Regions from separate parts of the Homo sapiens genome. Here region 2 is linked to region 1. A link means that fine-mapping ties the variant in region 1 to the expression of a gene that starts in the linked region. Tissue or cell type: blood mononuclear cells. Region 1 holds a variant in brackets; the other region holds the start of a gene. All regions are shown on one strand. Distances are from middle to middle.

Region 1 (2,679 bases):
GGGGAGATGTGGCTGGCAGGCCCCGTGGCATAAGGCCCAGCCTGCGCCTCCAGATAGCTTCCTGCTGGCCGCTCCTGTAGGGAAAGCTTCCTGGCTGAGAGGCTAGGCCGGGCTGGGAGCAGTCTTGAAGTACTGCCAGGGATCACAGAGGCAGCTCTGGCCCGTGGTGGGGGGTCCACACCGTTTCTAGTAGGCTCTGGGCCACCATCTGCCTCCTCCAAGTGAGTCACATCGATGGCTGCCACCCGTTCTACCAGCTCTGCCCGAGGATCCTGGCAGCAGACAGCTGGACCCCCCTCCATTGCTTCAGTCAAGGGGGTTCTTCTGCGTAGCCTTGTTGGGAACCTGAGAAAAGAAGGCAGAGAAGGCTTCACTCCTGGGTGTCAGGCTGGCTACCAGGTAAGGTAGCCACAGCGCTGTGGGTCCCACCTCCATGCCTTTGCCCTGGCTGTTCCCTCTACCGGGATTGCCAACACCCAAACTCAAGTCTGTCCCTATGACCTGAATGAATTCACATCGGTTCTGCCGCATGCCAGCCCTCTAGGCCTCAGTATCCCTGCCGGTAACAGAGGCAGTCACTTCTGCCTGCTGGCTTCACAGGGAAGCAGAGAGAATCTGATATTCTGGAATCAGGACAGACAGGGCAGAAGCCTGGAGGCCCAGCAGCACTGGAAGGGGCAGAGCCCAGGGTCAGCTCAGCCCCAGCACAGCATGCAGCCCTGTGAGTCATGAGTCCCAACCCTTGACAGCAGAGCACTCCGACACTGCCTCCTGGAAGCTGAGCTAGACACTAGTAACTCAGAAGCCTTGCTGATGCTTCAGACCCACCCGCCTCCTCCAGGGAGCCCTCCTTGATGTTTCAGCCTCCTACCCCCATCCCTCTCACTGCTTCCAGGAAGACTTCCCTGGGGCTCCCGACTCCAGCCAGCCCTGCCTCATTGACGTCTGTCAAAACAAGGGGATGGGCCCCACATGGTGGCTCACACTTGTAATCCCAGCACTTTGGGAGGCCGAGGCAGGTGGATCACCTGAGGTCAGAAGTTCGAGACTAGCCTGGCTAACATGGCAAAACTCTGTCTCTATTAAAAATACAAAAATTAGCCAGGCATGGTGGCGTGCACCTGAAATCCCATCTACTCGGGAGGCTGAGGCAGGAGAATCGTGTGAACTTGGGAGGTGGAGGTTGCAGTGAGCCAAGATCACGCCACTACACTCCAGCCTGGGTGACGGAGCAAGACTCGGTTTCAAAAAAAAGCAAGGGGATGAGAATGAGGGGAATGAGGGGTGAAACAGGGGCATGACATCCCCTGAGACTCATGTTCTCAAACTCACTGTGTGGCGGCTGAAACATCAGGGAGGTGACCCCCAGCCCTCACCTTCAGCCATGACCCTGGGCTACATCCTGACCCCGGACTGAACCCTGACACTCAGCCTGAGACCCCCATCTCTGTCCCAGGCTTGTAGAGCGCTGGCCA[T/C]GCCCAACCTGATGCCCTTCCCCCTGCTTGCGCTGGACTCTGCATGTTCTCAGGAGAAGGAAGTGAGTGAACTCCTGACCCTCCATCCTTCCTGTCTGCTGGTAACTTCCTCCGAACCCACACAGCAACTGAGAACATGGGTCTCAGGGAGACCCAGAGTACGCATGGTGAAGCGCCTGCTCTACCGCTCGTTCCCCATCCCCTTGCTTTGACAGATGTCAGCGAGGCAGGGCTGGCTGGAGTCCACCGGCCACTGAGGAGCCAGGACTGGGTTCCAGTCCTGCCTGCTGACCCACCAGGGGCCCTAGACCAGCTCCTTCCCGACTCTGAGCCCCAGTCTCCCGACTTGTCCTGTGGATTCCCTGCCTTCCCATATTTTCCAGGCTCACAGCAGGGTTTGGAGGTAGACTGAGGGTAAGGGTGAGGTCCAGACCCCCTGTGCCCGGTACGCAGTGTGTTGAATGAGTAGAAGCCTGGAGGCGGTGGGGCTGGTGCTGACATGGAGAAAGGAAGAGAGGAGGCTCCACACTAGGAACAGGAAAAGTCATGGAAGCTGGACCCAGAGGAGTGAGAGGGAGTTAATGAGGCTGGAACATCAAGGAGGCCTCCCTGGAGGAGGTGAAGGAGGTGAGGAGGCTGAGTGAGGCTAGAGTATCAGGGAGGCCTCCCTGGAAGAGAGGGCAGGAGACAGTGAGTGCGGCTGTGGCACAAGGAGGCCTCCCTGGAGGAGGTGAGAGGGGACAGGGAGTGGGGCTGTGGCACAGGGAGGCCTCCCTGGAGGAGGTGAGAGAGGACAGAGAGTGGGGCTGTGGCATAAGGAGGCCTCCCCAGAGGAGGTGAGAGGCTGTGGCATAGGGAGGCCTCCCTGGAGGAGGTGAGAGGGACAGTGAGTGGGGCTGGAGCTTCGGGGAGAGCTTGGAAACCAGACAGCATAGGAAGGAGGAAGCCAAAGCTGGGAACACCCTCCAGGACCCGCCAGGCTCCTCCCAGCAGGTGGCCCACCCCTCCGCCCCTTCCCCTCACTCCGCATGCCTTGTTTTTCCCTCCCGAATGTAAGTTTCATGAGATTAGGACGCTCATCTGCCTTGTCTCCAAAAGATCATCAGTGCCTGGCATGTGATAGGAACTCGATAAATATTTGTTGAATAAATGAGTGGTTGCCATAGTGATCGTTACAGCCCTGTCCCCATTAGACAGATGAGAA
Region 2 (2,679 bases), 30 kb after region 1:
CTGGGGACTGGTGGGACAGAAGGAGGGCTCTTTTGGACGCCAGAAGTTTCCGGGGGACTAGGACTTCATGGTCCTTGTTTGGGCCCTGGGTCAGCCTGCCCTGGACTCCATTTAGCAGTTCTGGTTCGGAACCATGGTAAAAATGGGGAGGGTAGAGCTCTCAGAATCACACGGCAAAGGCAGGCAGGGGCTACTGGGCACCCCTAGGACCCCAGCAGGGGCTGAGCCCCCTCCAGTGGCCCTGGGGCCTCCAGGAGACCTCTGCAGAGTCACTGTGAGTGGACAAGATGCACCACACACAGGGGACACACACTGGCCACCCAGACACTTGGCCACAGGGCAGACATGGGCACAGCCATATGTACACATAAGGGTACCCACATGTGGGCACTCAGCACCAGGGACACACACCCAGACACATATAGGCACAGAGCTCCATATGCACACTCACAAGTGTGCCAGCCTCTGCCAGGCCTGTCTTGGCTCCCGAGACAACCATACTGCAGGAGCGTCCCACGCTGCCTCTGATTCTGCACTCCCAGCCCGGTGGGACAGGTCCGGAGATGCCCAGAAAGGAACTATCATCCCTGGGACCAGAACCAATCTCTGTCCTCCGCCTGACATGCCAACATGAAGGCACCAGGTATTCAGAATGTGAGAGTTTCTCTGCTCCGGGGGCCTCAAACGTCCCTGGATGTCCCTTGCTCAGGCAGGGAAGCTGGCAGCAGAGTCTGTCTCTCTCTAACTTGTCATATGGGGTGACGGGTGTGGGGTATGGCCTCTGTGTGTCAGTGGCGGCCTGGTTTGGCAGGCGGTCAGAGGTCGAGGACTCAGTGGCTGTGGTTGGTGGTGCCCTGGCCCTGAACACCACTAACCACTCAAAGGAACCATAACACTGAGCCGGCTCCTCAGAACCCAGAGACTCTGCCTCCTGTTCACCGAAGGCCCCCGGGCAGGGCTTCCCCTCCGGCCTCGTCCCCATCTCAACAGCGAGTTGGCAGGATTTTCTATTCTCGCACAGTGGCTTGCCAGGAAGGCCTTCCCCTGGATGGAGAGGAAGAGGGGCTCGCTGGTGTCACGCAAGGGATGTCAGAGTCTGGAGGACAGGCCCGGGGTAGGGGCTGGTGCAGGCAGCGGGAGGCGCCCGGACTCACCCGATGACGTAGACCAGGACCACCAGCTGGATCAGTCGGAAGATAACGCCCACCTTCTTATTACGCACCAGCACCATGCGGGGGGTGTCATACTCGAAGAGGAAGGCGGCCAGCTCCTCCTGGAACCGCCGTGCCATGGTGGGCCGGCTGGGGCTCAGAACTGAGCCCCCTGCACGGCCTCTGCTCTCAGGGTGAGCCGGGTGCCACCACCCACGTCGATGGTAGAGCTTCTGGGGGCTTCCTGGCCCCTTAGGAAGAGCAGGGCGGTGCAGGTGGAGCCAGAGGACAGGAGCCAGAGGTCAGCTGGAGGCACTTGGGTTGGAGAGAGAATCCCTGGGTGATCAGAGCAGCTCTTGGCCCCTGGAAGGCAACAGACTGCAGGCCAGCCTCGCCCATGGACAAATAAATTCCCAAAGATAGATGGGGCGGGGCTGGTGGGGCCACCCAGGCCCAGCCCCACTGCCCCTCCTGGCTCTGCGTGGGCCTTGTTGGGCCTCCGGAAACAGGAGTTGTTGGCAGGAAACCACAGGCCACCCGTCACAGGGGCAAAGATAAAGCTCTCAGTCGACTCCTCAAGTTATCCTCCCCCCAAAACCTGGCAAGATGGAGCTCTGGCCAGGGCCTGGGGGAAGCTGGAGTCTCCTCAGATTAGGGGACTCCCCGCGACTCCCCTCCACTGCCAAAATGAGACCTCCATCCCCAGCCCCATCCACCACCCTCCACCCTCCCCCACCAGGGTTGGCTGCTTCGTCCCTGGGGGTCTGCAGCGAGCAAGGCAGAGAGGAAGGAGGCTCTGAGTTCCAGCCTGGCCTGTGCCCGGTCAACCTCGGTGCTGAGCTGGCATCTCTATCCCCCAGCTCTCCTCTCCCACTGTCTGTCCTGCCGGGGCCACCATCAGAGGGAGAGAGGTGGCAGGTGCCCAGCCAAGACCAGCACCACATCCGTCACCAGTGCCATGGGGGGCCCAAGACCAGCCGAGAGAGCCTGACCTCGGAGATCCCTGGCTCTGCCACTTCTTGGCTGTGGGGGCTGGGTGTCACCTTGCCTCTCCGAGCCTGCTTCCTCATCTGTAAATTGGGGTAATAAGGGCTGTTCCTTCTAGGTCGAGGCTCACAGGGGATGGGTCTCAGCAACACGGGACAGAGAACTGGAGGCCACCATTGAGTCTGGGGCACAGCACCTCTGCAGTCCCTGCCTTCCCTTCCCACCCCCAGCTCGGGCCCTGAACACAGGGGTTTGGGGTGGGCAGAGGGTCCCACGTTGGCTCCTCAGAGCTGGAGGCCTCCCCAGCCCCACCCCTCGTTTTGAAGATGAGAAAACCAAGCTCAGAGAAGAGAAATGAGTTGCCCAAGCTCACCCGGGGTGGTACTGGAGGTTCAAGCTGGAAGCAGGGGCCTCCCTGGCGAGCCCCCACGGCCCTGTCGTCGGAGCCGCCCCACCCTTAAGGCTGATAAGGAGTCTTCTTGCTGGCGAGCCATGAGCTGGAAGTGCTCTGGGCAGGGAGCCAGGCCCTGGGGCTGGGAAT

What was found. PIP is the estimated chance that this variant, and not a neighbour inherited with it, causes the effect.
Region 2: it holds the start of P2RX1, and the variant in region 1 is fine-mapped to the expression of P2RX1 in blood mononuclear cells (TOPMed, PIP above 0.99). The same link has a PIP of 0.9 or more in whole blood.

The regions. Positions count from the first base shown.
Region 1 is chr17:3,885,386-3,888,064 of GRCh38, forward strand. CAMKK1 (calcium/calmodulin dependent protein kinase kinase 1) reads right to left here. Exons shown (of 16, transcript NM_032294.3): 2 at 1-345. The coding sequence starts at 302. Among named protein-coding and RNA genes, the nearest start is that of CAMKK1, 6.3 kb to the right of the region's middle. The variant T/C (reference allele first, on the strand shown) is at 1,476.
Region 2 is chr17:3,914,935-3,917,613 of GRCh38, forward strand. P2RX1 (purinergic receptor P2X 1) reads right to left here and starts at 1,531. Exons shown (of 12, transcript NM_002558.4): 1 at 1,155-1,531. The coding sequence starts at 1,291. RefSeq lists an enhancer at 635-704.